3 separate regions of the Homo sapiens genome follow, and all the other regions are linked to region 1. The links come from fine-mapping of genetic effects on plasma protein levels. A gene starts in region 1. Each other region holds a variant in brackets. All regions are shown on one strand. Distances are between the middles of the regions. Region 1 holds the start of HBQ1 (hemoglobin subunit theta 1). Region 2 holds the start of FAM234A (family with sequence similarity 234 member A). Region 3 overlaps LUC7L (LUC7 like).

What was found. PIP is the posterior inclusion probability: the model's chance that the variant is causal. The UK Biobank Pharma Proteomics Project read protein levels with antibody pairs (Olink). The fine-mapping took linkage between variants from a reference panel, not from the people measured, so its PIPs are less certain.
Region 2: its variant is fine-mapped to the plasma level of the HBQ1 protein (UK Biobank, PIP above 0.99).
Region 3: its variant is fine-mapped to the plasma level of the HBQ1 protein (UK Biobank, PIP above 0.99).

What each region holds. Positions count from the first base shown.
Region 1 is chr16:178,857-186,856 of GRCh38, forward strand. It overlaps HBQ1 (hemoglobin subunit theta 1), which reads left to right and starts at 1,603. Exons shown (of 3, transcript NM_005331.5): 1 at 1,603-1,725; 2 at 1,810-2,014; 3 at 2,124-2,323. The coding sequence starts at 1,631. The coding sequence ends at 2,252. RefSeq lists an enhancer at 2,104-2,363 and a silencer at 2,374-2,723.
Region 2 is chr16:229,656-237,877 of GRCh38, forward strand. It overlaps FAM234A (family with sequence similarity 234 member A), which reads left to right and starts at 5,166. Exons shown (of 13, transcript NM_032039.4): 1 at 5,166-5,202. It also overlaps the pseudogene C4orf46P1. RefSeq lists enhancers at 1-166, 4,583-5,126 and silencers at 4,859-4,908, 4,989-5,448. The variant G/A (reference allele first, on the strand shown) is at 1,645.
Region 3 is chr16:218,246-226,499 of GRCh38, forward strand. It overlaps LUC7L (LUC7 like), which reads right to left. Exons shown (of 10, transcript NM_201412.3): 3 at 2,404-2,502. Among named protein-coding and RNA genes, the nearest start is that of LUC7L, 7.1 kb to the right of the region's middle. The variant T/G (reference allele first, on the strand shown) is at 6,373.

The DNA of each region.
Region 1 (8,000 bases):
GAGGTTGTAGTGAGTCAAGATCGCGCCATCGCACTCCAGCTTGGGCAACAAGAGCGAAACTCTGTCTCAAAAAAAAATTTAATCTAATTTAATTTAATTTAAAAATTAGCACGGTGGTTGGGCACAGTGGCTCACGCCTGTAATCCCAGCACTTTGGGAAGCCAAGGTGGGCAGATCACAAGGTCAGGAATTCGAGACCAGCCTGGCCAATATGGGGAAACCCCATCTCTACTAAAAATACAAAAAATTAGCCGGGTGTGGTGGCGCACGCCTGTAATCCCAGCTACTCGGGAGGTTGAGGTAGGAGAATCACTTGAACCCAGGAGGCAGAGGTTGCAGTGACCCGAGATCACACCATTGCACTCTAGCCTGGGCAACAAGAGCAAAACTCCATCTCAAAAAAAATTATAAAAATTATACATCAGTAGATGAATGGGTAAACAAAATGTGGTGGTCTATACACACAATGGAATATTATTTGGCCACAAAAAGAAATGAAGCACTGATAGGATGTAGCTGCACCCTGAAAATATTTGACAAGTAAAAGAAGCCGGACACCAAAGGTCACAAACTGCATGACCCCATCTATATGCAATATCCGCTACAGCCAAATCCATAGGGACCAAAAGCGGATTAGTGGCTGCCGGGGCCAGAGTTACTGTTAATGAGTACCGAGGTGGCGTTTGGGATGATGAAAAAGTTCTGACCTAGATAGTGGTGATGGCTGCATAACACTAAGTGTTCTTAATATCACCAAATTTTATACCTGAAAAATGGCTACAATGGTAATTTATGTCTATTTTATCACCTTTTTTAAAACAAAAAAGATATAAGGGGTACAGCAGAGTGAGTGCTGCATATGCATTTACTATTATTCTTGGGTTACATCCCAGGTACTCAATAAATGTTCACTGCCCTGAAGAAACACCTGCTACGAGTCAGGCACCTCACAGTTGTTATCCGTTTAATTCTCACAATCTGAGAAGAAACTGTCACCCTCATTTTATATAATAAATGAGAAAACAGACTCGGGCAAGTGTCACAATAGAATCAAGAGGCAGAATAAACTGACTTCCAATGCCAAATCCATGCCGAAATTCAGTGCTATAATAATGTACATGGCCGGGCGCGGTGGTTCACGCCTGTAATCCCAGAACTTTGGGAGGCTGAGGCGGGAGGATCACCTGAGGTCGGGAGTTTGAGATCAGCCTAACACGGTGAAACCCTGTCTCTACTAAAAATACAAAATTGGCATGGTGGCATGCACCTGTGATCCCAGTTACTCGGGAGGCTGAGGCAGGAGAATCGTTTGAACCCGGGAGGCGGAGGTTGCAGTGAGCCGGAATGGCGCCACTGCACTCACCGCACCCGGCCAATTTTTGTGTTTTTAGTAGAGACTAAATACCATATAGTGAACACCTAAGACGGGGGGCCTTGGATCCAGGGCGATTCAGAGGGCCCCGGTCGGAGCTGTCGGAGATTGAGCGCGCGCGGTCCCGGGATCTCCGACGAGGCCCTGGACCCCCGGGCGGCGAAGCTGCGGCGCGGCGCCCCCTGGAGGCCGCGGGACCCCTGGCCGGTCCGCGCAGGCGCAGCGGGGTCGCAGGGCGCGGCGGGTTCCAGCGCGGGGATGGCGCTGTCCGCGGAGGACCGGGCGCTGGTGCGCGCCCTGTGGAAGAAGCTGGGCAGCAACGTCGGCGTCTACACGACAGAGGCCCTGGAAAGGTGCGGCAGGCTGGGCGCCCCCGCCCCCAGGGGCCCTCCCTCCCCAAGCCCCCCGGACGCGCCTCACCCACGTTCCTCTCGCAGGACCTTCCTGGCTTTCCCCGCCACGAAGACCTACTTCTCCCACCTGGACCTGAGCCCCGGCTCCTCACAAGTCAGAGCCCACGGCCAGAAGGTGGCGGACGCGCTGAGCCTCGCCGTGGAGCGCCTGGACGACCTACCCCACGCGCTGTCCGCGCTGAGCCACCTGCACGCGTGCCAGCTGCGAGTGGACCCGGCCAGCTTCCAGGTGAGCGGCTGCCGTGCTGGGCCCCTGTCCCCGGGAGGGCCCCGGCGGGGTGGGTGCGGGGGGCGTGCGGGGCGGGTGCAGGCGAGTGAGCCTTGAGCGCTCGCCGCAGCTCCTGGGCCACTGCCTGCTGGTAACCCTCGCCCGGCACTACCCCGGAGACTTCAGCCCCGCGCTGCAGGCGTCGCTGGACAAGTTCCTGAGCCACGTTATCTCGGCGCTGGTTTCCGAGTACCGCTGAACTGTGGGTGGGTGGCCGCGGGATCCCCAGGCGACCTTCCCCGTGTTTGAGTAAAGCCTCTCCCAGGAGCAGCCTTCTTGCCGTGCTCTCTCGAGGTCAGGACGCGAGAGGAAGGCGCCGCCCCTCCCCAAGGAAAGGCGAGGGCCTGGGGCACACCCCCAGTGCCCAGATCCAGGCGCGCCTCTTTCCACCTCCAGCAGGTTTGGGGCCTCGGCCATGGGGGCACCGAACTGCGTGCAGCCTGACCCTCCCGAATGGGGTGGTAGGTGAGGGCCGCGGGACGCCCCGGGCGGCGGGCTGCGAGGACGGCCGACTCTGCCCATCCCGAGGGCGGCTGGCTTCGCCCTCCCCACTCTGCGCCGAGCACGCGGCCCGGACCCACCGCGAGAACTCCGCACCTGCAGCGTGAACGCACGCGGGCGGCGTTAAGGGCCCGGGGCTGACTCGGAGCAGGTTAGGGAACAGCGCCCCCTCCCGGCGCGAGCCGGTACCTGCGCAGCACCCAGCCGCCGCGGCTGTGGCCTGGAATCGGGGACCTGGGGTGCCGGGGGGTTGTGGTGAAGGAGGTGGGACCAGCCCCAGCACCTAGCCACGTAGCTGGCGAGGTGGACCAGGAACCGACCCAGACCCCTGCCGTCACCCGACATCACTACGGAGAGTGAAGCTTTTTTATATTTGTCCACATAAAACCAATCATGGTCATTGTAGAACTTCCGAAAACAAGGCTTGCTGCACCTTCCTGTGTATCCCAGGTCCAGGAATGGGTGCAGCACATCCTTCAGCTGCCGCTTGACACGCGGCAAACTGTGTCATGTGTAAACAAGAACAGGACATGGCTGTCATATCCAAGAGCACATGTGTAACACAGACATGCCACACACACACACACACACACACGGGGTAGAGGCAGGCCTCATCCACACCCCTAACATTTGATGCGTAGCTGTTCCAGTCTTCTAGGCACATGTAGAGATGCTTTTCCTCAGAAATGGTATTCTCAAGGTGACACTGAGGAAAAGTGGACAGGCCGGGCGCGGTGGCTCACGCCTGTAATCCCAGCACTCCGGGAGGCCGAGGCGGGCGGATCACGAGGTCAGGAGATCGAGACCATCCTGGCTAACACTGTGAAACCCCGTCTCTACTAAAAATACAAAAAAATAGCTGGGGGTGGTGGCGGGCGCCTGCATTCCCAGCTACTCGGGAGGCTGCGGCAGGAGAATGGCGTGAACCCCGGAGGCGGAGCCTGCAGTGAGCCAAGATTGCGCCACTGCACTCCAGCCTGGGCGACAGAGTGAGACTCCGTCTCAGAAAAAATAAAAATAAAAATAAAAATTAGCTGGGTGTGGTGCGGGCGCCTGTAATCCCAACTTCAGGAGGCTGAGGCAGGAGGATGGCTTGAACCCGGGAGGCGGAGGTTGCGGTGAGCCGAGATCACACCATTGCACTCCAGCCTGAGCGACAGAGCGAGACTCCGTCTCAAAAAAAAAAAAAAGAGGAGGGGGCGGGGGGAAGAGCCAGAGAAAATATTTGCTACATGTGGCAGATAAAGGTTATTATCTCTACTACATTAGATCTCCGGGCGGGGCATGGTGGCTCACGCCTGTAATCCCAGCACTTTGGGAAGCAGAGGCCGGTAGATCACCTGAGGTCAGGAGTTTAAGACCAGCCTGGCCAACATGGTGAAACCCCGTTTCTACTAAAAATATAAAAACTAACTGGGTGTGGTGGTGCATGCCTGTACTCCCAGCTACTCGGGAGGCTGAGACAGGAGAATCACTTGAACCAGAGTCGGAGGTTGGAGTGAGCTGAGATTGCACCACTGCACTCCAGCTTTGCGACAGAGCGAGACTGTCTCAAACAAAAAAAAAAAAAAAGAAAAGAAAAAATCTGGCCCCTAGCCCACCCGTGAGCCCCCTCTTGGATCCACGTTCTAGTTTCTATCCTTGGGGTAGCTCGAGTCAGTCTCACCTCAATCATCCTGTGTGCTCCCAGAGCACAGGACCTGCGGCTGCTGCAACTTCGCGCACAGGAGCAAGCACTTGGAGCCCAGGAGGCTCAGGGGCCCTGAGGAAGCACCAGGCTCTCAGACTCCTGTAACTAGGTGTGGACACCCTCCTGGGATTACATCTGGAGCATCACTGAAGGTGGAAGAGCCAGACCGCATCCTCCCTGGAGATGTGGAGGTTGGAGGGAGCTGGCCCTGGCTCAAGGGCTCAGCCCACTTGGTACAGAACCTACCCAGAGGTGCAGATCCAAGGGAGCAGGGGGAGCAGCTGTGGGCCCTCCACACTGTTGGGGAGACTCATGCCCACTCAAGTCCAGGGGAATTTGCACTCTGCCTTTTTTTTTTTTTTTTTTTTTTGAGATGGAGTCTTGCTCTGTCACCCAGGCTGGAGTGCAGTGGTGCAATCTCAACTCGCTGCAATCTCCACCTCCCGGGTTCAAGCGAATCTCCTGCCTCAGCCTCCTGAGTAGCTGGGATTACAGGTGCCTGCCACGCCTGGCTCATTTTTATATTTTTAGTAGAGACGGGGTTTCACCATGTTGGCCAGGATGGTCTCAATTTCTTAACCTTGTGATCCACCTGCCTTGGCCTCCCAAAGTGCTGGGATTGCAGATGTAAGCCACCGCGCCTGGCCATACTCTGCCTTTTCAAAGCCACTCCTACACAGGTGGTGGTGAAGGCTGCACAACAATGTAGATACACGTCGTGCCACTGAACTGTACACTGAAAAACTGTTATAACGGCACGTTTTGTGTGCACTTTACTATAATAAAAAATGTTCCATCCTGGCTGGGCGCGGTGGCTCACGCCTATAATCCCAGCACTTTGGGAGGCCGAGGCGGGCAAATCATAAGGTCACGAGATTGAGACCATCCTGGCTAACACAGTGCAACCCCGTCTCTACTAAAAAAAACACACAAAAAATTGGCCGGGCGTGATAGCGGGCGCCTGTAGTCCCAGCTATTCGGGAGGCTGAGGCAGGAGAATGGCGTGAACCAGGGAGGCGGAGCTTGCAGTGAGCCGAGTTTGCGCCACTGCATTCTAGCCTGGGTGACAAAAGCGAGACTCCGTCTCAAAAAAAAAAAAAAAAAAGTTCCATCCTGGCCAACGTGGTTCTGGCTCCAGGCTGCCACCCCTCCCCCAAAGGATGCCACCCCAGATAGGGGTCCTCGGCCTGCTCCAGCACCTGCCTGTCCCATGACGGCTGCACACTGGGGTAGGAAACGGCCTCCGCATCCTCCTCTCCTCCCCCCAGGACTACCCTTAACCCACTCAGGGCTTCGGTCAAGGCCCATGCGCTCCCCAAGCCCAAGGTAACCCTGTGCAGGAGGCAAAGGTGGTACAAGGCACAGCCCATCCAGCTAGTTTGGCGCCGACAGCACCCACCAAACAGAGCCATTTACCTTTAAAAAAATCACTGCCAGCTGTGGTGACACACCTGTAATCCTAGTGCTTTGAGAGGCTGAGGTGGGAAGACTGCTTGAGCCCAGGAGTTCCCAAGAATATCCTGAGCAACATAGTGAGACCTGTCTCCACAAAAACATAAAAAATTAGCCAAGTGTGGTAGTGCACACCTATGTCCCAGTTACTTGGAGGCTGGGGCAGGAGGATCACTTAAGTCCAGGAGTTCAAGGCTGCAGTAAGCCATGACTACAACACTGCACTCCAGCATGGGTGACAAAGCAAGCATCGTCTCAAAAAAAATAAATAAATAATTTTGGCCAGGTGCCGTGGCTTACGCCTGTGATCCCAGCACTTTGGGAGGTCAAGGCGGGTGGATCACGAGGTCAGGAGTCCAAGACCAGCCTGGCCAAGATGGTGAAACGTTGTCTCTACTAAAAATACAACAATTAGCCGGGCATGGTGGCGGGCCCCTGTATTCCCAGCTAGTCGGGAGGCTGAGGCAGAGGGTGCAGTGAGCCGAGACTGCATCACCGCGCTCTAGCCTAGGAGACAGAGCGAGACTCCGTCTCAAAAAAAAAAAAAAAAAGTTTTTTTTTAATCGCCAAATGTTCTGGAGAGGCCCCCTTCTCTTCTGTTCTCCTGCAGTCTGGGCTGCAGGCCAAGGTGGTCCCTGTGGGTGGAGACAAGGGCCGGTTCCACCTGACACTACAGACCCCTTCACATGGGAGGGATACACTTCCAGACCCATATATCTCCGAGTAGCCATCTTTGGCGAGATTTACTGGTACTGCAGTGGAAAGGAAGGACTCGCTGTACTGGGTGAAAAAAGTGAAAACATGGGACTCCTATCGCAGACTCTGACAGCAGAACCTGGTGTGGGTTATTTGGGAGGAGGGAGGGAGGAGGGAGAAAGGAAGAGCTGTTGTGGGTGCTATCAGCGAAACTGCACCGGGGGCATGAAGCTCAGTTTGGTCAGCACCACCTGGCAGGTGTACCAAAAGCCCACCCGACTGTCCCTGCACGGTAGAGAGGCAGGAGCGCCTCTCCCTGCACGGATGGTGCCCCGGAGGCTACCAGGGGCGGCCGAGGACACTGATGCTGCATCCCAGGAGGACCTGTCCTTCAGCTGTAATCAGCAGACACGGGGGACAGGATGGCCAGGGGCACAGCACCTTTTCTGTAAACCCCACACCCTGACCCCCCCCACCCAAAAAAGCAAAAAACAACTATTTGTCTACACATACAATTTTATGCCCAGATGGAAAAAGATCCAAATGATTCACAGTGGTGATGGCTCTGAGGGTGACGCTGTCTGCTTAAGGCCCAGGGAAACCCAGGTGCAAACTCACACTCATCACCCAGGCAGCCACAGCCATGAACACAACGTGGGCTTGGGAACAGGGAGCCCAGACCCAACCACTCCCTCCTAGAAGACGAAGAGGAAAGCACATGTGCTGAACAAGTACCCTGAGTCCCACCTGCAGGAAAAGGTGCAGGTAAGGAATACGGACACGGGAGGAATACGGACACGGAGGGAACAGCGACACGGGGGGAACAGCGACACGGGGGGAACAGCGACACGGGGGGAACAGCGACACGGGGGGAACAGCGACACGGGGGGAACAGCGACACGGGGGGAACAGCGACACGGGGGGAACAGCGACACGGGGGGAACAGCGACACGGGGGGAACAGCGACACGGGGGGAACAGCGACACGGGGGGAACAGCGACACGGGGGGAACAGCGACACGGGGGGAACAGCGACACGGGGGGAACAGCGACACGGGGGGAACAGCGACACGGGGGGAACAGCGACACGGGGGGAACAGCGACACGGGGGGAACAGCGACACGGGGGGAACAGCGACACGGGGGGAACAGCGACACGGGGGGAACAGCGACACGGGGGGAACAGCGACACGGGGGGAACAGCGACACGGGGGGAACAGCGACACGGGGGGAACAGCGACACGGGGGGAACAGCGACACGGGGGGAACAGCGACACGGGGGGAACAGCGACACGGGGGGAACAGCGACACGGGGGGAACAGCGACACGGGGGGAACAGCGACACGGGGGGAACAGCGACACGGGGGGAACAGCGACACGGGGGGAACAGCGACACGGGGGGAACAGCGACACGGGGGGAACAGCGACACGGGGGGAACAGCGACACGGGGGGAACAGCGACACGGGGGGAACAGCGACACGGGGGGAACAGCGACACGGGGGGAACAGCGACACGGGGGGAACAGCGACACGGGGGGAACAGCGACACGGGGGGAACAGCGACACGGGGGGAACAGCGACACGGGGGGAACAGCGACACGGGGGGAACA
Region 2 (8,222 bases), 51 kb after region 1:
ATGAAATACAGTCAATCAAAAACAAGATGAATCCGTGCTTTTTCTAAGCTAGCCATGAAACCGTGAGCATATTATTTAGCTCCCCGACGCTCGTTTTTTTAAATCTGTGAAATGAGGGTTCTAAAGGTGCCCCTCATATGATTTTTGTGAAAGTTAAATAAAGCATGGAATTTTATTTATTTATTTATTTATTTATTTAGAGCGAGGGTCTTGCTCCGTCGCCCAGGCTGGAATGCAGTGGCGCGATTACCGCTCACTGCAGCCTCGACCTCCCCGGCTCCTTATCCTCCCGCCTCAGCCCGGCAAAGTATTGGGATTACTGGTGTGAACCACCACGTTTGGCCATCAGTCATGGCATTAATATTAGGTTCTATGATTACAACCTCGTGGTCGTCCTTTTGTGAGCTCATGGTCTACTGTCCCAGGGACTAAAGAAAAGGCATATGTAAGCAGTTATTTTATGTGATAATAGAATTATAGCATGCACTTATGTGTGCATAGTCTGGCATATACTTCTATTATATTAAACCTCTATTATTTATTTATTTATTTTTGAGACGGAGTTTCGCCCAGGCTAGAGTGCAATGGCGCGATCTTGGCTCTCCGCAACCTCCGCCTCCTGGGTTCAAGCGATTCTCCTGCCTCAACCTCCCAAAGTGCTGGGATTACAGGCATGAGCCACCACGCCCGGTCTTTATTTTTTATTTGTTTATTTTTTTTTTGAGACGGAGTCTTGCTCTGTCACCCAGGCTGGAATGCTGTGGCGCGATCTCGGCTCACTGTAAGCTCCGCCTCCCGGGTTGAAGCGATTCTCCTGCCTCAGTCTCCCCAGTAGCTGGAATTTCAGGCGCCCGCCACCCCCTCCGGCTAATTTTTGAATGTTAAGTAGAGACGGGGTTTCACCATGCTGGCCAGGCTGGTCTCAAAGTCTTGACCTCAAGTAGCCAGCCACCATGCCCAGCTGATTTTTGTATTTTCGGTAGACACGGTGTTGTACCGTATTGGCCAGGCTGGTCTTGAACTTCTGACCTTGTGATCTGCCTGCCTCGGCCTCCCAAAGTGCTGAGATTACAGGCGTGAGCCACCGCGCCCTGCCGTATTTTATTTATTTTTGAGACGGAGTCTCCCTCTGTCGCCCAGCCTGGAGTGCAGTGGCGCGATCTCGGCTTCCTGCATCCTCTGACTCCTGGGTTCAAGCGATTCTCTTGTCTCAGTCTCCCCAGTAGCTGGGATTACAGGCACCCGCCATCATTCCCGACTAACTTTTTTTTTGTACTTTTGCAGAGACGGGGTTCCGCCATGTTGGCCAGGCTGGTCTTAAACTCCTAACCTCAGGTGATCCGCCCACCTCAGCCTCCCAAAGTCCTCGGATTACAGCTGTGAGCCAGAACGCCAGGCCCCTGCTCTCTATTTAAAATAAATAAATAGGGTGTCCGTTGGGCTGCTCGGGTCGGATTCCGCGGTGCCAGCCCTTCCCCATGGCCGACCCTGAGAAGTTGCAGGTTTCTTCGCCGCCCCCGCCGCCTCCTTCTCCCTCCTCTTCAGACGCCTCTGCAGCATCTTACCCTGGCAGCCCAGTGAGTTTGGGCTGGCCAGTTCCGAGCAGGAGCAGCGGCCGAACGGTGGACCCGCTGGAGGAAGTGG[G/A]GCTGCAGATCGGAGACGCAGCCTTTTCATTAACCAAACTTCTTGAAGCCACATCTGCAGTATCAGCTCAAGTGGAAGAACTTGCCTTCAAATGTACAGAAAAGGCACGTTTCCTTAAAACGTGGCGGGACCTATGGAAAGAAGGCTATGATTCTTTGAAACCTGATGACTAATTTGGCATACTTCGTTGTTTAATAATGACTGCAATAATTCATACTTCTTCTTATGTCATATTTGTACGTGTACCACACGTATAGGATGACCTCTGTCCAGCAGTTCTGTATATACTCAGAATGAATTTTTTCTTGGTTTTCTTGGCTTTTCTGAAAGCAGAATACCGATGCTATTTTTGTTGCGGACCAGTACTTGTTTGTCCTTACATACTTCATGCCTCTGAACTTTCGTAGAATCCTTTATGAAAGTTAACTTCATCAATAGATGGTTAATATTAATAGAGCCACAGGGCTACCAGCAGCAAACTAGGTGGACCATTATTTGTTTTGAAACAAGATGCTAAGCATGGCAGAGTTTGAAGTTGCATTTCATCTTAAGGACCAAGGGAGGTAACTTTAAGGTTGCCAGTGGTGGATCCAGCTCCATTAGGCTACGTTGTCTACAGCTAATGATTGTGCTTCATTCTGTATCCCCAGCACCTAAAACAGGGTCACACAACACTCACTGTTGGTTGAATACAAGAATTAACAAACATAAAAATAAATAAATAAATATAGGCCGGGTGTGGTGGCATGTGCCTCTAGTCCCAGCCACTCGAAGCTGAGGTTGGAGGATGGATTGAGCCTGGGTGGTTGAGGTTGCAGTAAGCTGTGATCACACCACTGCATGGCAGCCTGGGCAAAAGAACGAGACCCTGTCTTGGCCAGGCACGGTGGCTCACACCTGTGATCCCAGCACTTTGGGAGGCCAAAAAAAAAAAAAAAGAATGAGACCCTGTCTCAAAAATGAAATTAAAACTTAAAAAACATGCCAGGCTGGGGGCAGTGGCTCATGCCTGTAATCCCAGCACTTTGGGAGGCCGAGGCAGGCGATCACCTGAGGTCAGGAGTTTGAGGCCAGACTGACCAACATGGAGAAACCCCATCTCTACTAAAAATACAAAATTAGCCAGGCGTGATGACGCATGCCTGTAATCCCAGCTACTCGAGAGGCTGAGGGAGGAGAATTGCTTGAACCTGGGAGGCAGAGGTTGCGGTGAGCCGAGAATGCATCATTGCACTCCAGCCTGGGCAACAAAAGCAAAACTCCCTCTCCCCCCGGCCAAAAAAAAGGCCGATCACAGTGGCTCACGCCTGTAATCCCAACACTTTGGGAGGCCGAGGTGGGTGGATCACAAGGTCAGGAGTTCAAGACCAGCCTGGCCAACATGGTGAAATCCTGTCTCTACTAAAAATACAAAAAAACTAGCCTGGTGTGGTGGCACACGCCTGTAGTTCCAGCTACTCAGGAGGCTGAGGCAGGAGAATCACTTGAACCCAGGAAGCGGAGGTTGCAGTGAGCCAAGATTGTGCCGCGGCACTCCAGCCTGGGCGATAAAGGGAGACTCCATCTCAAAAAAAAAACAGGCCGGGAGTGGTCTATTTTGACACTCCACCTCAAAAAAATTAATTAATTAAAAAATAAAATTTAAATTTTAAAAAATCATTTCACAAATGATAATTTAATATGATTGCTGCCCTGGAAGGGGGAAAAAAGACTTACTCTAAGAATACAACAAAGACTGTTCATGGGCTAGAAGCATCAAAAGTCCAGACACGGTTAGACAAGTTTTGTTTTCATTTATTTTGAGACAGAGTCTCACTCTGTCGCCCAGGCTGGAGTGCAGTGGCGCGATCTCAGCTCACTGCAAGCTCCGCCTCCGAGGTTCACACCATTCTCCTGCCTCAGCCTCCCAAGTAGCTGGGACTATAGGCGCCCGTCACCACGCCTGGCTAATTTTCTTGTATTTTTAATAGAGACGGGGTTTCACAGTGTTAGCCAGGATGGTCTAGATTTCCTGACCTTGAGATCCACCCACCTCGGCCTCCCAAAGTGCTGGGATTATAGGCATGAGCCACTGTGCCCGGCTGACAAGTTTTAAATAATGTTTTAAGGCATGACTTTGCTTCCAATTGGCCATTTGAACAAAGCAATTAAATCATCTGAATTACGCACCTACCAAACTGCCACAGTTACTAGAAATCAGACAACTGCCAGGCACAGTGGCCCATGCTTGAAATCCCAGCACTTTGGGAGGCCAAAGCAGGAGATCACTTGAGTCCAGGAGTTCAAGACCAGCCTGGTTAATATGGCAAAACCCCATGTCTACAAGAAAGGAAAAAAATTAGCTGGGCATGGTGGCTTACAGCTGTAGTCCTAGCTACTCCGGAGGCTGAGGTGAGAAGATCACTTGTGCCTGGGAAGCAGAGGTTGCAGTAAGCTGTGATCCCGCCACTGCACTTGAGCCTGAGGGACAGAGGGAGACCCCATCCTTTTTTTTTTTTTTTTGAGACGGAGTTTCACTCTAGTTGCCCAGGCTGGAGTGCAATGGCAAGATCTCAGTTCACCGCAAACTCTTGCCTCCCAGGTTGAAGCAACTCTCCTGCCTCAGCCTCCCGAGTAGCTATGATTACAAGCACGCGCCACCAAGTCCAGCTAATTTTGGATTTTTAGTAGAGACTGGGTTTATACATGTTGGTCAGGCTGGTCTTGAACTCCCGACCTCAGGTGATCCACCTGCCTCGGCCTCCCAAAGTGCTGGGATTACAGGCATGAGCCCCTAGCCTTTTTTTTTTTTTTTTTTTTTTTTTTTTTTGAGACACGGTCTGGCTCTGTCGCCCAGGCTGGAGTGCAGTGGCGCAGTCTAAGCTCACTGCAACCTCCGCCTCCTGGGTTCACGCCATTCTCCTGCCTCAGCCTCCTGAGTAGCTGGGACTACAGGCGCCCGCCACCACGCCTGGCTAATTTTTTGTATTTTTAGTAGAGACGGGGTTTCACAGTGTTAGCCAGGATGGTCTCGATCTCCTGACCTTGTAATCCGCCCGCCTCGGCCTCCCAAAGTGCTGGAATTACAGGCGTGAGCCACCGCCCCCGGCCCTGGCACCGTATTTCAAGGCCGAAAATTCGCATCCTCAGTGCCAGCAATTCTCCTCGTGGTCAAAGAGGAGAAACACTGGGGAGAGCACCCGGAAGCGGGGGCGAGGACGCAGATCGGGGGTCGACGTCAAGAAAGAAGGCGGGAAGAGGACAAGGTCGGGAGAGGAGGAGGAGGGGAGCGAGGACGCAGAGAAGGAGGGGAAAGAGGACGGAGAGGAGCGAGGACGGAGGGGGGACGGGAACGAAGAGGGGCGAGGACGTTCAGCATCCATTGCGACAGCGACAAACAGGACACCGCCAGGTTCCCGGCGGAGGCAGCGCCCAAGATCCCCGTTGCCGAGCAACCGAAGCATGGCGGTGGGGCGGGGTCGGAGCCTGCGCATTTCCGCCCCCGCCCGCCCGGCTGGTCGGAAGTGACGCCAGGGGGCGGGGCCAGCGGCGCGGTCGGGTGAGAGGCCGCGGCGGCAGGTGAGTGAGCGCGGCCTCGTACTCGCGCGTGCACGCCGCAGGGGCGCCGCAGGCCGCCCCTTCGCTCTGGGACCCCGGCCCCCAGGTTCCCCAGTCCCTCGGCCCCTGGAGGACCCCGCCGTGCTGCCCCCTAGCTCCTCCGCCTTCCCGAGTCGGGTGCGGGCCGGGAGGCTGCGGCGGGGCCCCAAGTCCCTCAGCGGGTCGGCAGCAGCGCCTCTGGAGGCTGATTCTTTCGGGTTTCCCCCATTGCCGCAGCCTGGGTTTCAGTGGCATTCAGAACAAGCCCACATGTTCCTCAAAGCGGGGTTTTACCTCCCGGTAGGGAGCTCCCCGCCGTGGCGCAGCGTAGGTGAGCCGGCCGTGGTCGCTTTCGCTCTTGGTGCCGCCTGGGTTGCCTGAGAGTGTTTTTTTATGGTGGAAGAATGTGGATGAGAAGCCTCACGGGGGTCGGAGAGGCGTGTCCTCTCTCGGGACGCTGTCTGCAAGCTTGTCCGTCCGGCACCCCGGGAAAGCTCCCCGAGCGCAGCCGAGGTTGCTCGTCTGTGGGAGGGACTCAGGCATAGAACACAAAACAGAGGCTAGATGGGAGGAAAACACTGGGATTAGCGTTCCTGGCTCTCCCCTACGTTCGTTGGCCGAGAGTTGTCAAGGAGAGAGTTTGCCCTTGGACAGACTGATAGGATATCAGGGTAGGCAATTTCACTTACTCTCTGGTTCTAAACCTTGTGATTCCAGCTGAGGAGGCTGTGACGCGCTCCCTTCCATGTACTGGCTGCCGGTGTCTTTACGGCGCCAGCATCAGATTACACTACTTCCCTTATTGCAATTTCAGTCTGCATCCAATTAGAGCAGAATAACTCAACAAATACTCTCCGAGTGTCTGCTGGGAACCAGGGATGGTTGTAGGAGCTAAGGATATAGTACTCCACGAAAGAACTTCCTGTCCTCAAGGAGCTTCTATTCTACTGGAGGGTACAGATAGTAAATTAGATAAATAAAAAATGGAGCTTGCTGGGCCGGCGCGGTGGCTCACGCCTGTCATCCCAGCACTTTGGGAGGCCGAGGCAGGCGGATCACCTGAGGTCAGGAGTTCGAGACCAGCATGGCCAACATGGTGAAATCCCGTCTCTACTAAAAATAAAAAAATTAGCTGCGTATGGTGGCAGGTGCCGGTAATCCCAGTTACTCGGGTTCAAGCGATTCTCCCCACTCAGCCTCCCAAGTAGCTGTGATTACAGGTGCCCGCCACCACACCCAGCTAATTTTTTTTATTTTTTATTTTTAGTAGGGGTTTCACCATGTTGGCCAGGCCAGTCTCAAACTCCTGACCTCAGGTGATCCACTCGCCTCGGCCTCCCAAAGTGCTGGGATTACAGGTGTGAGCCACCGCAACTGGCCCTCTTTTTTTCCTTTTGCTCCACCCTCCTGAGTATCTGGGACTACAGGCATGTGCCACCATATTTATTTTTCTTAAAAATTTTTTTTGGGTGGGCGCAGTGGCTCATGCCTGTAATCCCAGCACTTTGGGAGTTTGGGGTAGGCGGATCACTAGGTCAAGAGATCGAGACCATCCTGTCCAACATGGTGAAATCCCGTCTCTACTAAAAATATAAAAATTAGCTGGGTGTGGTGGCGCACACCTGTAGTCCCAGCTACTTGGGAGGCTGGGGCAGGAGAATAGCTTGAACCCGAGAGGCAGAGGTTGCAGTGAGCCGAGATTGCACCACTACGCTCTGGAGACATAGCGAGACTGTCTCAAAATAAATAGGCCGGGCGCGGTGGCTCACGCCTGTAATCCCAGCACTTTGGGAGGGCGAGGCGGGCGGATCACGAGGTCAGGAGATCGAGACCATCGTGGCTAACACGGTGAAACCCCGTCTCTACTAAAAATACAAAAAATTAGCCGGGCGAGGTGGCGGGCGCCTGTAGTCCCAGCTACGCGGGAGGCTGAGGCAGGAGAATGGCGGAAACCCCGGGGGGCGGAGCCTGCAGTGAGCCGAGATCGCGCCACTGCACTCCAGCCTGGGCCACAGCGAGACTGTCTCAAAAAAATAAAATAAAATAAATAAATAAATTATTTTGTAGGGATGGGGTCTCTCTTTCTCAGTCTGGTCCTGAACTCCTGTGCCCAAGCAACCCTCCTTTGTTGGCCTCCTGAAGTGCTGGAATTATAAGTGTGAGCCACTGCGCCCAGCCTGTTTATTTATTTATGTATTTTTTTAAAAAAATATGTAGATGGGTTCTCACTGTGTTGCCCAGGCAGGTCTCAAACTCCTGGCTTCAAGCAGTCCTCCTGCCTTGGCCTCGCAAAGTGTTAGGATTACAGGTGTGAGCCACCATGCCCACCCCTTCTTTTTCTTTTCAGGCTCCTTGCTTCCATTCTGCTGACTTCTAATGGTTGTCTGCTGCTTGTAACAACACAAAGTTTAATGGATTAAAGTGACGAATATTTATTATCCAACAGTTTCTGTGGGTCAGGAATTGATCAGTGGCTTATCTGGGTGATTATGACTTCGGGTCTCATGGAGTTGCAGCCAAGATGTTGGCTGGGGCTGCAGGTGTCTAAAAGCTGGATGGAGTCTTTTCTGTTTTTTCTAGAGGTCGAAAATTTAAAAAGAACAAATAAAATAAAAGCTGGACCAGGGCTGGAGGATCTGATTCCAAGATGGCTCACTCACAAGGCTAGTGACTGGAAGCCTCAGTTCCCTCTTGGCTGGTGGCAGGAGCCCTCAGTTCCTTGCATCATGGAACTTTCCTTAGGGCCCATGTCCTCACATGGTAATTATCTTCCCTTAGAGCAAGTGATCTCGGAGTGAAAGTGGAAGGTTTCCACCACAAAACCTGTTAATGAAATTCTTTTTTTTTTTTTTTTGAGACAGAGTCTTCCTCTGTCACCCAGGCTGGAGTGCAGTGACGTGATCTTGGCTCATTCCGCCTCCCTGGTCCAGCTATTCTCTTGCCTCAGCCTCTGGAGGAGCTGGGACTACAAGCACGTACTACCACGCCCAGCTATTTTTTTT
Region 3 (8,254 bases), 40 kb after region 1:
AAGCGGAGGGACCCTTTCCCTTGGGTTTTATATTTTTCACTGGCTCCCTCATCCCATGCTCAGTGCCTTCCCGGTCTTCACTCAAGAACCAGAATGGCATCAAACCCCTCTACTAACCTCTGGTCATACTAGCGATGGGTGATTAGGGATTAAAAAACAATTAAAATTGAGTGAGTTTAAATCATGTATTCTTACCAGGCACAGTGTAATCACACCTGTAAACCCAGCACTTTGGGAGAGTGAGGTGGGTGGATCACCTGAGGTCAAGAGTTCAAGATGAGCCTGGCCAACATGGCGAAACCACATCTCTACTAAAAATACAAAAATCAGCTGGGTGTGGTGGCGGGCACTTCTAATCTCAGCTACTTGGGAGGCTGAGGCAGGAGAATTGCTTAAACCCAGGAGGCGGAGGTTGCAATGAGCCAAGATTGCGCCACTGCATTCCAGCTTGGGCAACAGAGGGAGACTCTGTCTCAAAAAAACAGAAAAAAGAATCTTAAAAGGCTCCACTGGGGGCAACAACGAAAAAAAGCTGAAAAATGCTACTCTAAATGAATTTACTGGCCAGGCATAGTGGCTCACACCTGAAATCCCAATACCAGTGAGAGGCCAAGGTGGCAGGATCACTTGAGGGCAGAAGTTTGAGACCAGCCTGGGCAACATAGTAAAACCCTGTCTCAAAAAAAAAAAAAAAAAAAAAAAAAAAGGCCGGGTGTGGTGGCACACACCTATACCCGCAGCTACTCAGGAATCCGAGGCAGGGCTATCACTGAGCCGAAGAGGTCAAGGTTACAGCAAGCCATCATCACGCCACTGCCCTCCAGCCTGGGTGACAGAACAAGAACCTGTCTCAAAAATAAATAGGACAGGCGCGGTGGCTCACAGCTGTAATCCCAGCACTTTGGGAGGCCGAGGCAGGCGGATCACAAGGTCAGGAGATCGAGACCAGCCTGGCCAACATGGTAAAACCCCATCTCTACCAAAAATACAAAAATGAGCTGGGCATGGTGGCGCATGCCTGTCATCCCAGCTACTTGGGAGGCTAAGGCAGGAGAATCACTTGAACCAGGGAGTCGGAGGTTGCAATGAGCCAAGATGGTGCCACTGCACTCTAGCCTGGTGACAGAGCAAGACTCTGTCTCAAAATAAATAAATAAATAAAAATTAAAATAAATTAAATAAATAATTAGCCAGACATGGTCGTGTGCATCTGTAGTACTAGCTATTTAGGAGACTGTGGAAGAAGGATCACCTGAGCCCAGCAATTCACTTACAGTCAGCTATAATCATGCTGCTGCACTCCAGCCTGGGCAACAGAGTGAAACTCTGTATCAAAAAGAAAAAGAAGCTAGGCACGGTGGCTCAACCTGTAATCCCAGCACTTTGGGAGGCTGAGGCGGGCGGATCACCTGACGTTGAGAGTTCGAGACCAGCCTGATCAACATGGAGAAACACCATCTCTACTAAAAATACAAAATCAGCCGGGCATGGCGGCTCATGCCTGTATTCCCAGCTCCTCAGGAGGCTGAGGCAGAATTGCTTGAACCTGGGAGGAGTAGGTTGCAGTGAGCCAAGATCGCACTACTGCTCTCCAGCCTGAGCAACAAGAGTGAAACTCCGTCTCAAAAAAAAAAAAAGAATTTACTAATGTAGATAAAATAACACAACTACTGAGTACTAAAAAAATGCAAATTGAGATCAGAAAGAAATGCCATTTTACAACCACTAAACTGCAAAAATTAAACAGTCTGATAATACAAAGTGTTGGTGAGCGTGCAGACACTGCTATGGGACTTTACCAAATAGAAACAAGAAGACAACATTACAAAATTGTCTTGCGAGGATAAATACGGGTATCTCCTATAAACCAGCAATCCCTCTCCTAGGAATATACCCAAAATAAATCCTTATCCACGTGACAAGGAAGTTATGCAAAAATATTCATATTGTCTGCAGTAGCAAAACTAGAATCAATCTAAATGTCTATGAATAAAGCAAAGATCGTTTGAGAATTATTCAAGCAGCAATGAAAACTATATGCAACAACCTGGGCAAACAGAAACATGATACTGAACCAAAAAAATCTAATTTTAAAGACTCTACACTATGAAACCATTCAAAACTAAGCAAAAATAAACACTGTTCAAGGACTCATAAAAATGTAATTAAAATTTTTAAAAGCAACAAAATGAGATAACACATATTATCATTTAGGACACTGACAGGACGCTGGACACAACATATAAACAGTACTGGCTGTATTCTAGCTCTGAGCTTGAGTGGCAGGATAACAAGCAACTACCTTATTATTTTGCTTCATAACTTACGTATGTTACATTTTTCTTGTTAGTTCAATATTGGGTTCTTCGCAGTAGGAATAAATCAACATTAAATAAAACTTACATCTAATTCAAAAAACAGGTCTCTTTCTTTACTTGCAATCTCATAATCTGCTCGGAGGGCCAAGTCGTGGATTTTGGTACATTCTCCTAAATCCATGCGCTGTGGGAAAGAAACAGAAAATGCAGACCTCAGTGCCTACCTACTGTAGAAAGCACACAACGCGACTTGGTGTTTCAACTGTCACCAACAGAAATGATCACTTTTGGAACACTGACACTGCAATAAGAAAATTAAGAAAGGAGATATGGCTGAGAAGCCTCATTTCACTTTTACCATCGTGACTACGTGATACTTGAAACTGATGCATTTAATAGTGTAAAGTTTCTATTTTAGACCCAGAGATAATTGGACTGTAATCATCACAACTACATTAATTGGCTTTTGCCAGTTTTTAAGGAGTCTCACCTGTCACCCAGGCTGGAGTACAGTGGCGCGACCTCAGCTTACTGTAACCTCTGCCTCCGGGGTTCAGGCAATTCTCCTGCCTCATTCTCCCAAGTAGCTGGGATTACAGGCACGTGATACCACACCCAGCTAATTTTTTTTTTTTTTTTTTTTTTTTTTTTTTGTATTTTCAGTAGGGACAGGGTTTCGCCACGTTGGCCAGGCTGGTCTTGAACCTCTGACCTCAAGTGATACACCCACCTTGGCCTCCCAAAGAGCTGGCATTACAGGTGTGAGCCACGGTGCCTGGCCCAGTTTTATTTATGCATCAGTCCAAGGATTCAGTAAATGGCAGCATGTGGGGTGGCAGGGATAGGAAACGGCCAGGGCTGGGCGTGGTGGCTCACGCCTGTAATCCCAGCACTTTGGGAGGGTGAGGCAGGCGGATCACTTGAGGTCAGGAGTTCAAGGCCAGCCTGCCCAACATGATAAAACCCAGTCTCCACTAAAACTACAAAAATTAGCCAGGTGTGGTGGCAGGGCACCTGTAATCCCAGCTACCTGGGGAGCTGAGACACAAGAATCGCTTGAACCCAGGAGGTGGAGTTTGCAGTGAGCCAAGACTGTGCCACTGCACTCCAGCCTGGGTGATAAAGTGAGACTCTGTCTCAGAAAAGGGGAAAAAAAAAAGGAAAGGGCCAGAAAACAGTCTCACTGCAACAAATTTCTAGGCATTGTCTTGCAATCTTGACTACTTGAGATGCTCGATGCTTAAGATGCAGAGACAGAGGAAGAGGAAAGAGCGGACAGAAGTTAGATTTTGGCAATTACATCACAACCTAACACTTGGCTTTGTGTAGCTGATTGTGTATCAAAGGGAATAAAGGAGAACAGGCTGGTTCGTAGCCAAATACATGCTCTACACATTTTCTTAGCCTGGGAAATGACCCTGGACATCTAAGTGAGGACAGATAATTGTCCCACTCAGTTCCTCCATTTGACAAGCAAAACGTTCCATTACTAAAACAAAATGATTTATGTTGTCAGTAAGAACAGCATGATGTGCTATTATGTGTACCATATGCAGTACAATTAGAAAACAGTGTATGATTTTAATCTAAATCCTAAGTATAGGACTCTATGCAGACACCTTCTGCCTCTCGCCATCTACACAGCAACAGGGAGGTTTGTGTGCTGAGGATCATCGTGTCAAGTTATAGAGTGCATGTTAACAAAACCCAACATCCCAACTAGGAGACACCCCCAGTAGGACAAAAGAACATGTCTACATAACCAGAAAAAAAAAAAAAAAAAGACGTTAGTACCAGTTGCAGTGGCACATGTCTGTAATCCCAACACCTTTGGGAGGGCAAGATGGGAGGATCACTTGAGCCCAGGAGTTTGAGACCAGCCTGGGCAACATAGCAAGACCCTGTCTCTATGAAAAAATTAACAATTAGCTGGGTGTGGTGGTATGTGCCTGTAGTCCCAGCCACTTGGGAGGCTGAGGGGAAGAGATCGCTTGAGCCTAGGAGGTCAAGGCTTCAAGTGAGCTGTGACTGAGCCACTGCACTCCAGTCTGAGCAACAGAGACCCCTGTCTTTTTAATTTTTTTTTTTTTTTGAGATGGAGTTTCGCTCTTGTTGCCCAGACTGTAGTGCAATCTCGGCTCACCGCAACCTCCGCCTCCCAGGTTCAAGCGATTCTCCTGCCTCAGCCTCCCAAGGAGCTGGAATTACAGACATGTGCCACCACGCCCAGCTAATTTTGTATTTTCAGTAGAGATGGGGTTTCTCCATGTTGGTCAGGCTGGTCTCGAACTGCTGACCTCAGGTGATCCACCCACCTTGGCCTCTCAAAGTGCTGGGATTACGAGCGTGAGCCACCTCGCCCAGCTTTTTAAAGAGACCCCGTCTTTTAAAAAAAAAAAAAAAAAAAGAAAGGAAGGCTTTAAACCTTTAATCCATCTTGAGGGGGAAAAAAATAGAGAGGCTTGCATGTCTGACTCTTGGGATGCAGTCTCATAGAAAGCATGTAGCATGCTAGGCTGGGCACGGTGGCTCACTCCTGTAATCCCAGCACTTTGGGAGGCCGAGGCGGGCGGATCACGAGGTCAGGAGATCAAGACCATCCTGGCCAACACAGTGAAACCCCTTCTCTACTAAAAATACAAAAAAAATTAGCTGGGCGCCTGTAGTCCCAGCTACTCAGGAGGCTGAGGAAGGAGAATGGCATGAACCAGAGAGGCAGAGCTTGCAGTGAGTCAAGATCGCACCACTGCACTCCAGCCTGAGCGACAGAGCGAGACTCCGTCTCAAAAAAATAAAATAAAATAAAATAATAGATAAAAAAAGAAAGCACGTGGCATACTCACTAACAAAACATCCTTCAGTATCACCAATAATAAAGCTAACATGGAGGCGGCAGACAACGGGTCTGCCTTGTATGGTGATGTTTATTTTGACGAAAGATTGACTTTTCTCCTTTATCATTCTTACTCTGAAGTCAGATGGGACTCACGTTATGGTCGGTTACATAGAAGACTTAGAGATAGGACAATAGTGGTTCTAGAAGCCAAATTTGCACTTAAAATCACTGTCACTGAAAATCTGACAACTTTTACCTCATTCACTCTGTTTTTTCTTTTTTTTTTTTGAGGCGGAGTCTCACTCTGTCGCCCAGGCTGGAGTGCAGTGGCACGATCTCAGCTCACTGCAACCTCTGCCTCCCAGATTCAAGTAATCCTCCTGCCTCAGCCTCCCGAATAGCTGGGACTACAGGGGCACGCCACCACGCCCGGCTAATATTTTTGTATTTTTAGTAGAGACAGGTTTTCATCATGTTGGCCAGGCTGGTCTCAAACTCCTGACCTCAAGTGATCCACCCGCCTCCTCCTCCTCCTCCCGAAGTGCTGGGATTACAGGTATGAGCCACCGCACCTGGCCTCATTCACTCTTCTAAGTTGTGGGTGTTGTCCTTTAAAATATATAGTTTCCACAAACTAAGCATTGTAGCTGAAAAATGAATGGCAGCTATCAGAAAAAATGCTTTAAACTAATCAAGGCTTTGTTGTTCAAAGAAAAAGCTACTACCAAAGGAAGCAGACCCTAAAACCTGAAGTACAACAAAGTATGAAGTACAAATTGATTTCCATTATAAAAAACTCAACTGTCAAGAAAGATATGACATTAGAAAACCTCATGAGGCCGAGCGCGGTGGCTCATGCCTATAATCCCAGCACTTTGGGAGGCCGAGGAGGGCGGATCACCTTAGGTCAGAAGTTCGTGACCAGCCTGGCCAACGTGGTGAAACCCCGTCTCTACTAAAAATACAAAAATTAGCCGGGTGTGGTAGCGCACGTTTGTAATCCCAGCTACTCGGGAGGCTGAGGCAGGAGAATTGCTTGAGCCCGGGAGGCGGAGCTTGCAGTGAGCTGAGATGGAGCCATTACATTCCAGCCTGGGCAACAAGAGCGAAACTCAGTCTCAAAATAAAAAAAAAAGAAAACCTCATGAGGCCAGGCGCGGTGGCTCATGCCTGTAATCCCAGCACTTTGGGAGGCAGAGGTGGGTGGATCACCTGAAG[T/G]CAGGAGTTTGAGACCAGCCTGGCCAACATGATGAAACCCCATCTCTACTAAAAATACAAAAAAAATTAGCCAGGTGTGGTGGCGGGCGCCTATAATCCCAGCTACTCAGGAGGCTGAGGCAGGAGAGTTGCTTGAACCCAGGAGACAGAGGTTGCAGTGAGCAGAGATAGCACCATGCACTCCAGCCTAGGCAACAGAGTGAGACTCCGTCTGAAAAAAAAAAACCTCACATGAAGCAAAATTCAGCACTTACTTTTCAATGTGAGAGCTCCCAAAAGAGTCCCTGCTTAAGCACACTGAGGATAGGCTTGGGTTCTATGATTACCCTCTTTGGATGTAGCTTTTCAGCTTTGCCAAGGAGGCAGGGAAAAATACTACTGGCCATTCCCCTGGATGCCCAACATCAAGCAGAGCTGAAATATCACATTCATTAAGTCCTTCCACAATATTCCACATGGCTGCTAAATCCAGTGTGTCAGGCGTTTTTTACTCCACAACCTGTGTTCTCTTCTGTACCTTCTACTGGTCTAACACTACTGACCAGGAAGGGCACCAAAGTTTCCGGAACCTTCAGAAAACACAGTTCTGGCCGGGCGCAGTGTCTCATGCCTGTAATCTCAGCACTTTGGGAGGCCAAGGTGGGTGGATCACGAGGTCAGGAGCTCCAGACTAGCCTGGTCAACATGGTGAAACCCCGTCTCTACTGAAAATACAAAAGTTAGCCGGGCGAGGTGGTGCATGCCTGTAATCCCAGCTACTCGGGAGGCTGAGGCAAGAGAATGGCTTGAACCTGGGAGGCAGAGGTTGCGGTGAGCCACGATCACATCACTGCACTCCAGCCTGGGCAACAAGAGCGAAACTCCGTCTCTTTTTTTTTTTTTTTTTGAGACAGAGTTTTGCTCTTGTTGCCCAGGCTGGAGTGCAATGGCTCGATCTCGGCTCACCACAACCTCTGCCTCGCGGGTTCAAGTGACTCTCCTGCCTCAGTCTCCTGAGTAGCTGGGATTACAGGCATGCGCCACCACACCCAGCTAATTTTGTATTTTAATAGAGACAGGGTTTATCTATGTTGATCAGGCTGGTCGCCAACTCCCAACCTCAGGTGATCCACCCGCCTCGGCCTCCCAAAGTACTGGGATTACAGGCGTGAGCCACCGCACCCAGCCTGAAATTCTGTCTCAAAAAAAAAAAGAAAAGAAAAGAAAAGAAAAGAAATACTCTCACTCAGATTATTTTTCTCACCAGTATTCTGCAGCTATGCTACACAGGGTCTGGCCAAGGAAAACATGGTTGAAATCTTCCCGAGAGTGCACATCTATCTGCTCCCTCTGACTTCCTTCACTATGGGTTTATCAAGAATTCCAAGTTGTGCATCCTATGAAAATACCCTACAGTGAAACTTCCTTTGACGAGTTGAAATCATTAATCTGTATTGACCTCGGTACACACAACAATCTGCATCAAACAGTAACGTTTTCCCATCCCAGGCCAAACAGCAGACAACACCCCAAGGAACAGAGGCACAAGGTTTGGCATTCATTTCGCATTTGCTGTCAGAAAACTCAGCTTGAGAAGTTTTAATACATCTGAGCGGTTTTCCAGAAGGTGCTCCTCCCTAATATAAGCAATGATTCATCATGAAGAAAACTTCCTTTAACATATGCACATTTCATCCTTAAAATGAGAGGATAGTTTTTAACCTCCGTGAGGTAGCTGTGAAACCTTAAAATGGGGGTGGTCTCTACAGGACTCCTTTTCTCTCAGTGGCGTAATCACCACAGATAACCTTCCACTATTCAGTCTTTTCAAATTCTTACTTCGAATAAATGCACATTATACAAAGCTAGCGTTTATCTGTTTTGTTCATCTGAAGTGAACTTA